Regions from separate parts of the Homo sapiens genome. Here region 2 is linked to region 1. Evidence: fine-mapped expression QTL. A gene starts in region 1. The other region holds a variant in brackets. All regions are shown on one strand. Distances are between the middles of the regions.

Evidence for each region. PIP is the estimated chance that this variant, and not a neighbour inherited with it, causes the effect.
Region 2: its variant is the best candidate, but not a certain one, in a credible set for the expression of ZNF619 in whole blood (TOPMed, PIP 0.53).

What each region holds. Positions count from the first base shown.
Region 1 is chr3:40,474,040-40,479,546 of GRCh38, reverse strand. It overlaps ZNF619 (zinc finger protein 619), which reads right to left and starts at 2,425. Exons shown (of 5, transcript NM_001145093.4): 1 at 2,190-2,425; 2 at 1,544-1,629. The coding sequence starts at 1,567. RefSeq lists an enhancer at 2,112-2,251.
Region 2 is chr3:40,420,136-40,425,403 of GRCh38, reverse strand. It overlaps ENTPD3 (ectonucleoside triphosphate diphosphohydrolase 3), which reads right to left. Exons shown (of 11, transcript NM_001248.4): 8 at 2,282-2,554; 9 at 2,003-2,113; 10 at 1,441-1,578. The region is part of intron 2 of ENTPD3-AS1 (ENTPD3, EIF1B and MYRIP antisense RNA 1); the gene reads left to right. Among named protein-coding and RNA genes, the nearest start is that of ENTPD3-AS1, 31 kb to the left of the region's middle. The variant A/C (reference allele first, on the strand shown) is at 3,118.

The DNA.
Region 1 (5,507 bases):
TCTGAAAGGACTCTTACAAGAATGGCATTAAGTTATTATCTGTAACGCACGAAGATATCACCTGGCACATGATATCATCTAAATCTCAGCACTTACTACAACCACAGATGAGATTGGGGGAACTTCCTAGAAGATTCTAAATGACAAATGTTCCTCTTAGAGATTGTAGCAAAGACTGACAGGTGTGTGTGTACCCCCTTTCTTTCTTAGTATTGGAATCCTAATTTTACTTGAGGTTGCACTCAACCCGGGCAACCAAGTGGGGCCAATGAAATGCAAGTATAAATATTGTTGGGGACTTATGGGAAGGTTCCTAAAAGAGAGAGGTTCATCTTTTTTTGGGCAGCTCCTCTTCTAGCTGGAATGCACACATGATGGCTAGAGATCAAGCAGCCACCTTGGACAATAAAGTGGCCTAGAGCAGGTGAGACACTGCTAGGATGGTAGAGCAGAAAGACAGAGCCTGAGAGCATAATAGGGGAGCTGCCACACTAGCCCTGTATTGACTCTTGATACTTTTGTATGAGAGAGAAGCCTTTACCTCGTTTAATCCACTGTCATTTGGGGTCCTCTTTGGGGAATCTAATCCTAAGTGATTTCTGTACTTCAGGCAAAGCACCAGGAGAGCACAGCATACCCCCACAGCACACTTCCTGACTTGTAGGAATGAATTTTTGCTGAAGTTCTCGAACAGAAGTGGATGGTCCAATATCCACCAAAAGGACACACACATTGTTTTTAAGTCCTTGGGATGGAGCTTTCTCATTACAAGATACATCCATTACATGATAAACTCAGCTTTCTCATTCCATGATCTAGGACACTGGAGAAAAATCCAGTAAAACCATCATCTACCACCAAGAAAACTGGAGGGAAAAGTCCTCCCAATGCTACATGAATTTGTAGCCAAGAAAGGATATAGACTCTCACAGAGGTTAGACTGACGTCTTCGCATTGAGCTAAAGGCACTGGCTTCAGCTCCAAACTCATCATTCCTCCAAAAATACATCTCCCTCATCAATCTACATTTTCCACATGTTTCCAGTTCTGGCTTCACTGTACCTTAACTGAGTGGTCTGCAGGGTAAACTCCTCCCTTGGAAGTGTCTATTTAACCTCAGAAATGGCTTTTCTTTGTGTACTGTGAACGCAGACTAGCACTCCTCAAATTTTAATCTGCCCTTTAATTTTCCAGATCTTGTAAAAATGTAGATTCTGATTTAGGAGATCTGGGGAGGGGGCCTGACATTTTGCCTAACAAGAGCCCTCTGTAATGCAAAAGCTGCTCATCTCCAGGCCACACTTTCAGTTCTCATGAATGCAGATTCCCACTTTCTAGGATAATTCATTCCTTCTTTTCCAACCTACCTGACTCTCCCAAATTCACCTACTCTCGTTCGTCAACTCCCCTCGCATACTGTTTTTACATACTTTATTGAAGGATGTAAAACTAAGCATGAGACTGGCCAAGTCAGGCTACTGGGGCTGTACTGACCTTCCATATCTGTTCTGAGTATGGAAAGCTGAAAGAAAGCTCTGCTCACCTGGAACCACACTGTCTGGAGCATGGCTGATGACCCCTGGCTTCATGCACTGCCCTCTAGGTTTGAAAAAGTAAGAACCTGCGGAGCTAAGAGAGAACCACAATGAGACTGATCTGTCTCGTCTCCTACACTTGCCGCCTCTTCCCCTCTGTCTCCTGCCACTAGCATTGCAGATATTCTTGGCACACTAGCTGCTGTCATTCACCCTCTCCACTGATTCATGGGATGTTGCAAATGCTCCCTCTGCATATTCTCCTATAGATCTGCTTGGTGACACTGGAAACTCTAGAAAGAATATCTGTAAAGTAAGAGTCAAGAACTGCAGTGGATTCGTGGCTGTTTTTTAAAAAAAATTCTTGGCCCCACTATGAATGCATTACTAAACAGTTTGTATTGAATGCTTCTAGTGTTCATGGCAAAAACCCAAAACAAGTCTCTGGAGAGAAAGTAGGATATAACGGGGACCCCTAAACAAACCACAGGCTGCAGGACAAAATATAAGTGGTGACCCAGCCCCGGGTGACAAGGGTAAGACGCTTAATGTCCCAGCGGGTGATGCTGACCGAAGACCTAACCGGGATCTGAACGCTCCACCCTGGGAAGCAGGAGACCCTATAGTCACGGCTCCCATCCTCCCCATGAATACCGCGACCCGAGGACATCAGGCCAGCTCCTCGGAGCAGGAAGGTCGAGGGCGTCTCTGAAGACTGGGGACTGGGCCCAGGCTCTGGCGGCGGCGCGGGCCCCTCGGCGACCTCTGCAAGGGCCCAAAGCCTGACCTCCAGAACAGGTAGCCGAGTCAGGGAAGCCCGGGAAACTCAACCCGAGCGCTCGCAAGGTGGCCAAGACGGAAGCATTAGCTGGCCGGCCGTCGGTCCCTACAGCCTCTCTAGGAAGCCGGGAGGCTGGCCCTTCTCTATGGTTCCCACGAAACGAAACTCCAACCCTTCGCTTCCCTTCTCCACAACCGCTCTGCGCCTGGTTTGTTTGTTTTTTAATTTTAATTTTTTCGTGTGTTTTTTGAAACGGGGGTCTCGCTATGTTGCGCAGGCTGTTCTCGAACTCCTGAGCTCAAGCTGTCCGCCCGCCTCGGCCTCCCAAAGTGCTGGGAATACAGGCGTGAGCCACCGCGCCCGGCCGCTCCTGTTTTTCTTTATTATTTTCTCTTATGTCTTAGTACCCCAACTACATGATAAATTCCTCCATATTTAACAATTTGTAACTTAATTAACTGAATTCCTAATTCCTTACCTAATTACTTAATTCCTAACTTAACCTTCTAATGAATTTATAGCCCCTGTCTCCCACTGAATGACTGTGACCTAAGACCATGGGGTATGGTGTCTCATTGTCTGCGTTCCTGGCTCCACTCTATATGGACTTGCTCAAGTTATACTTAAATCGTTGCCTCAATTTATCAGTTGAGAATGGTAAAAGTTTGTAATTTATAAATTCAGTGAATTAACTGAGTCAATTCATGCAACAGTTTTGTAAACCAAAAATAAAATTCTAAGTCCCCCAACCAACTGAATGGACCACTTCTCTCAGCCAAAACATTCCAAAGAAAACCTGGCAATCTAGTTCAGGCCATGATGGGAAGCAGGGGATCGGACTTGCCTCGTTATGCCCTTGGAATTCAGGCACTACGGACCAGCATTAACATTAAAACAGAGATCTTGAGACTGACTAAAACTTTTTTTTTTTTTTTCCGAGATGGAGTCTTACTCTGTAGCCCAGGCTGGAGTACAGTTTCCCGATCTCGGCTCACTGCAACCTCCGCCTCCCGGGTTCAAGCAATTCTCCTGCCTCAGCCTCCTGAGTAGCTGGGATTACAGGAACGTGCCAACACGCCCGGCTAATTTTTGTATTCTTAGTAGAGACGGGATTTCACCATGTTGACCAGGCTGGTCTTGAACTAGACCTCGTGATCGCCCGCCTCGGCCTCCCAAAGTGCTGGGATTACAGGCGTGAGCCACCACGCCCAGCCCAAAACAAACTCTTTATAGCAATAAGACATCAAATTCTAACCTGACTCTAGTATAGTCTCATGTGACAGATAACAGGCCCTGAAATAAACTGAAGTATTTTACCCTAAAATGTATTTCTTTGACATATTTTGAAATGACCCTGTAAAGCTGTCTTTTGTGAAGAAAATCTACATCCTGTAAAGAATCCCCTTCACTTTCAAAGTGTTTTCCTTGATCCAGTAGAGAATTAACTAAGAGTTTGGCACCTTTTGAAGTCTGGTAAGAAACATTTACAATCGTTTCTCTCTGAAGCCTGCTACCTGGAGGTTTCATCTGCATAATAAGAACATTGGTCTCCAAAACCCCTTATCTTAACTCAGACATTCCCTTCAATTGATTCCAGGTCTTTAGCTAATAACTTTTTTTTTTTTTTTTTTTTTTTGAGACAGAGTCTTGCTCTGTCGCCCAGGCTGCAGTGCAGTGGCGCGATCTCGGCTCACTGCAAGCTCTGCCTCCCGGGCTCATGCCATTCTCCTGCCTCAGCCTCCTGAGTAGCTGGAACTACAGGCGCCCGCCACCATGCCCAGCTAATTTTTTGTATTTTTAGTAGAGACGGGGTTTCACCGTGTTAGCCAGGATGGTCTCGATCTCCTGACCTCGTGATCCGCCCGCCTCGGCCTCCCAAAGTGCTGGGATTACAGGCGTGAGCCACCGTGCCCAGTCCATAACTCTTTCAACTAATTGCCAGTTAGAAATCTTCAAAAGAAAAGAAAGGAAAGGAAAGGAAAGGAAAGGAAAGGAAAGGAAAAAGGAAAGGAAAGGAAAGGAAATCTTTGAATCCACCTACGCCCTGGAAGGTGCCCCCACACTCCCCACTTCGAGTTGTCCCTCCTTTCCGGATGGAGCTAATGTACATCCTACATTTATTGATTGATATCTTATATCTTCCTAAAACATGTAAAACCAAGCTGTAGCCCGACCACCTTGAGCACAAGATCTCAGGACCCCCTGGGGCTGTGTCGTGGGTCACTGGTCCTCATATTTAGTTTAGAATAAATCTCTTTAAATATTTTACTGAGTTTGACTCTTTTTATGGACAGAGTCCAGTTCTGTACTGAACTAAGTCAAAATAAGTGCTATATTATTGCTGACATTATTATTATTCGTGCGTATCTCACCACTCTCCTGTAAGACACTCCCGTATCTCTTTCTGCAGTCCAGATTTAATAACACTCATGGCAATAGTGCTTCCTATTGGCCAGGCAGTGTGCAGATAGCTTGGAGTTAGAGGTCTGGGTTTGAAACTGCCTGTTGATTTCTAATTATTCTACAAAAGCCTAAAATTCAAAATGTTCCAAACTAATCTCATCATCCTTCCCTCATCCCCCTGTTCCTCCTCCAGGGTTCCCCCACCTCAGTGAATGCACCAGTTTGCATCCAACCAAGAAACTCATTACACTACTGAACTCCAGCCTGGGCAACAGAGTGAGACCATGTCTATAGAAGGTATATATACAGTTTCATATTATTTAGGAAAGCATAACTTAGGGCCAAAATGTCCTATAAAGGTATGAAAATTTCACCTGTTATAAGTCATTCTGGACCCAACACCTTTTTATATTTGACAACTTTTCCGTCTCTTGTGTGGTTATTAGTCCATTCAGGTTTTTAATGCCTTTAACCAATTTTGGTACTTTCTTCCATAGAAAATAATTTGGCATAGGCTGTCAAATTTACTGATACAAAATCATCTTACTTTTTATATGTCCATGTCTGAAGGGATTTGTCCCTTTTCTTGTATCAATTACTGTTTACCTATACTTTTTCTCTTTTATTGAATTTTTCACAGAACCAACTTTTAGTTTTTTCATATTTCATTGCTTTTTCTATATCATTGATTTTTAGTATCATTTTTCTTTTTCATGAACACGTCTAATACCATATCGTGTTTCATTTTATCATTATTGATTTATTTCTTAAAATCTGAAAGACGTATA
Region 2 (5,268 bases), 54 kb after region 1:
GCTGTTGTTGCCCAGGCTGGAGTGCAATGGCGTGATCTCGGCTCACGGCAACCTTCACCTCCCAGGTGCAAGTGATTCTCCTGCCTCAGCCTCTGAGTAGCTGGGATTACAGGCATGCACCAACATGCCCAGCTAATTTCGTATTTTTAGTAGAGACAGGGTTTCTCCATGTTGGTCAGGCTGGTCTCAAACTCCTGACCTCAGGTGATCCGCCTGCCTCGGCCTCCCAAAGCGCTGGGATTACAGGTGTGAGCCACCGTGCCCAGCCTACATCTTCACATTTAAATACTAATTTGGCTGGACACAAAATTCTTTATAATTAAAAAAAGGGAACTTTTAACTTAGAATATTATGTCAACTCAAACTGGCATTCAAATGGAAAGTCATTCTCCATTCTTATAATATACTTTACTGGTAATTAGATTTATTAGAAGCAAAGCTTAGAGAGTACATGCTACCAACAGTCCTTATGTCTCCAGACATCCTTATTTTTTTGTAGATGACTCAATTTTATTTATGTAAAAGTAGATAGTCAGAGGCCTAATGCAGGATATTGATTGGTTTAATCTAATTATTGCTGAAGCTGGTATTGAACAGGCTGACTCCAGACATCCTTCAGGCTTCATATCAGCTATTCCTGAAATGAGAAAATTCTCTGGAACCTGGGGAACATAGTGCTGGCTGAACATATTCACAAGGCTTAGCCCTGCCTAAAAACAAGGTATGGAGGTCCTTTCACCTGTCACCAGGTGACAGCTGTGATTCCAGCTTTGGACCATTCTGGTCACTTGACCATCATATATATATATGTATGTATTTATAGATATCTATAAATATACATATTTTTAAATATATTAAACCCTGAGCTAAGAATATCTTCCCCATCCCCCAAATCTTTGTCAGTAAATATAATGACTTCAGGTTCATTCAAAGAGAAAATATTTATTTAATGCTAATGCAAATCCATCAGGCCCTAAGGCCTGTATCTTACTCTGATATCTGAATAAAATGGAGAAGAATTAGTTACTATCCTCTTTAAAAAACTGTTACATTTAAAGCTTCTTTTCAGGATGAAAAGTCTCATATCCTTAACATATTTATTTATGAATTCAACCAACATTTACTAAGTACCTTCTAGGCTCTATTCCTTGTGCAGAGTGCTGGGAATATGAAGATACCAAGACAGGTCTCTGCCCTCCAGGACCGCCTAGTCCATTGGCCCTTGGCTTCCAGTCTTTTCCAGGAGAATGTATACCCATGAGCAACTCTTCTAAATTCTCCATGACCTCTTCTGGGAAACTCACAAGGGATCAGTCTGATCAGCTTCCACCCAGTGAGTTTAACTCATTAATACCCTTTTACCTTCTACATTTGTTCCACACACACATACAAACCTCTCTGTTGGGAAGAAGAAGAGAAAATGATTTGTGCTTAACTTACTTCTTTTTCAAAGTGTATTTGGGGCCAAGTCTCCTCTGTGAATTTGTAACCGTTCACAAACAAGTGGTAGATGTAGTTGGCTGAGAAGCAGTAAGAGCGGGCATATACCTCATCAAATTTGGGGAGCAGCAGTGGGAGCTGAAAGGTTTAAAACATCTGAGAGGCAGGGCAGGCAGGTATGTTTTAAAATGAACACCTTGGGTTAAAAGTCATGTTTTAAAGAATCTTATCACCCATAATTTCATAATAGAAAATACTTTATAATACAATCATATAATCACACAATATAATTATGAAAATATCCCTATATAATATCACAATATACTAATCTTTAAACTCATTGAGTGCTTATTATATGCCAAATATTGTTCTAACCATTGTGCATGTAGTTATAACATTAATTCACACCACAGGTGTGGGAGTAGATTCCCTTATTCCTTTTATTTTACAGATGTGATGGAAATAGAAGAGCATAAAGGCTAAATTCAGAATACACACACATAGAATAGATTCTACCATATTTTTTTGTACTGACATTGATCCCTTCTCTTTAAATACTGACCTGACTCCAATTCTGTGAGCAGAAATTCCAGGTGCTGGAGTTGAAGGTGTCCAGGGAAAAGCTACCTGAAAGATTTAAAGCACTGGCTGTGTAGTAGAATCCTGCAAAAGCCTGGAAATAAGTAATACAGAAGAAAATTAGTTCTCAGAATGGGGTATAATAGAAAGGTTTATGGGTGAGGAATAAGAAGGTGGCTAACAAGTCAGCAGAGGAGAAACAGAAAAGTGAGAAATGAATATTCAATGGGGAAAGGAATCTTTCAGAAGGTTTTGCTCTTACCACAAATGGCCCTTTAATCTTTGGCTGATAAACCCCATCAAAAGAACAGGTTTCTTGATCATGGCAAGCTTTGAAGTCAAATATGGAAGCCACCTTCTCCTTACACAGAGATGGGTCCCCAGTTCCTTCAAAAGTGATGACATCATTGGGGTTATAACTTTCTGGCCTCTGGTCCACAGTGCACAGGCTATCAAATACATGGCCCATGGTGAAGCTGATGCTATAATCCCGAGGGTAACAGGGATTGGTGAGATGGTTTTTGGTAGGAGAATTCTGTAGGTATAAGAGTAAGGTGTTAGACACGTATGTTTATTGCGGCACTATTCACAATAGCAAAGACTTGGAATCAACCCAAATGTCCAATAGTGATAGACTGGATTAAGAAAATATGGCACATATACACCATGGAATACTATGAAGCCATAAAACATGATGAGTTCATGTCCTTTGTAGGGACATGGATGAAATTGAAAATCATCATTCTCAGTAAACTATCGCAAGGACAAAAAACCAAACACCACATGTTCTCACTCATAGATGGGAATTGAACAATGAGAACACATGGACACAGGAAGGGGAACATCACACTCTGGGGACTGTTGTGGGGTGGGGGGAGGGGGGAAGGATAGCATTAGGAGATATACCTAATGCTAAATGACGAGTTAATGGGTGCAGCACACCAGCATGGTACATGTATACATATGTAACTAACCTGCACATTGTGCACATGTACCCTAAAACTTAAAGTATAATAATAATAATAATAATAAAATCTCTAAGTAAAAAAAAAAAAAAAAGAGTAAGGTATTAGAAACCACTTTTTTTGTGGAGAGCCA[A/C]GTATTTCCCTTTTGCAAATTCTATCACTACCCTCCAATGCCAAGAGAGAAACAAAAAATACCATTCTGTGTCAGCATGTCTTTGATCACAGGTTGTCTAGATAATTCAAGTAGGGGTGGGAAAAGGGTGTGTGTGTGTGTGTGTGTGTGTGACAATTACCTCGTACCAGGCATAGCGCTAGGCTCTCTCTCACATTATCTGATCCAGCTCTTATGATAGCCCTATGAACCAGGTTTTATGAACTTCACTTGGTGAGAAAATGGATATATATAATGTATCATTTTAAGTAGAATATCACCCATCCATCTAGCAAAATAATCCAAAAGGTACAAATAAACATATGAAAGTGAAGTCTCCTTCTCATCCACTTGCAGCCATCAGGCCTTTTTCTGGAAACAATCACTATTGCCAGTTTTTGTGTATCCTTCCAAAGATCTGGCATGCACATGCAAATATATATATTTTCTCCCATGCTTTTCTTTTTTTAAAGCCATAAATGGTAGCACTTTATATACCCCATTCTACCCGTTGCTTTTCTCACTTAAAATTATATATCTTTGAGATCTTTCCATTCATTGTACTTATACAGTGGCCTATTTTTTTAGTAGCTGCATAGTATTCCACTGTACAAATAAACCATACTTTATTTAAGGAATATCATCTAGATGAACATTGAGGTGGTTCCCAATCATTTTGCCATTACAAACAAATATCCTTGTCACATATAAATCTTTTATCCATTGAAATTTATTTGATTTAAAGACTCAGAGACTTGGCTTTACTTTTTCCATATGACTATTCAATCTTTAATCTACTGGTGCAAAATACTCTATTTTATGCTAAAGTCCTGAATGTTGTTGATTCAATTTATGAACTCTCTTTTCTAAGGAATTGGATTTGAACTATGTTCAACTTAAGCCACTAAGGCATACTGCTTCCCCTACAGTAAAATCTTTTCTTTTGGCTGGGTGTGATGGCTCACATCTGTAATCCCAGCACTTTAGGAGGCTGAGGCAGGCAGATCATTTGAGGTCAGGAGTTTGAGACCAGCCTGGGCAACATGGTGAAACCCCGTCTTTCCTAAAAATACAAAAATTAGCCAGGCGTGGTGGCACGCACCTGTAGTCCCAGCTACTCAGGAGGCTGAGGCAGGAGAACCACTTGAACCCGGGAGGCGGAGGTTGCAGCAAACCGAGATTGCACCATTACACTCCAGCCTGGGTGACAAAGCAAGACTCCGTCTCAAAAAAAAAAAAAAAATTTAAATTAATTAATTATTATTATTTTTTGTTTTGTAGAGGTGGGGTCTCCCTGTGTTACCCAGGTTGGTCTCAAACTCCTGGGCACAAGAGATTCTCCTGCCTTAGCCTCCCAAAGTGCTAGGATTACAGGTGTGAGCCACTGCACCTGGCCACCCTACAGTAAAATCTTGACTCAGACATTTAGCCCAACCCTTTCATTTTACTGATGAGGAAACTGAGGTACATATTCAAGTAATGCAATTATTTAACAAAGGTCAGTGACAAGATTCTGCAAAAATCCTATAAAAGCTTAATATTCATCAAATATAACCCAAATGAGTGTTTTCCAGAAAAATCTTCATATGACTGAGAAGGAGGCAAACAGGCCCCTTTCTGCCTCTATGGTATGAAAAAAATCTATGATTTTCAAAAATTGTTACATATAATCTATAGCATATCATACTTGGGTCACCCTATGGCTGAAATATTGGTTGAAAGAAAAAATATGCGGGGCGTGGTGGCTCACACGTGTAATTCCAGCACTTTGGGAGGCCAAGGCGGGCGGATCACGAGGTCAGGAGATCGAGGCCATCCTGGCTAACACAGTGAAACCCCATCTCTACTAAAAAAAAATAGAAAAAATTAGCTGGGCATGGTGGCGGGCACCTGTAGTCCCAGCTACTCGGGAGGCTGAGGTAGGAGAATGGCGTGAACCCGAGAGGCAGAGCTTGCAGTGAGCCAAGATCACACCACTGCACTCCAGCCTGGGTGACAGAGCAAGACTCCATCTCCAAAAAAAAAAAGAAAAAAAGAAAAAAGAAAAAAAAATCAAACTAATCAATTGGCTATTTAGTATCTACTTCCAAATCTGATTTGTACTTTTTTTCTTTTCTAGTATAGTCTGAAGGG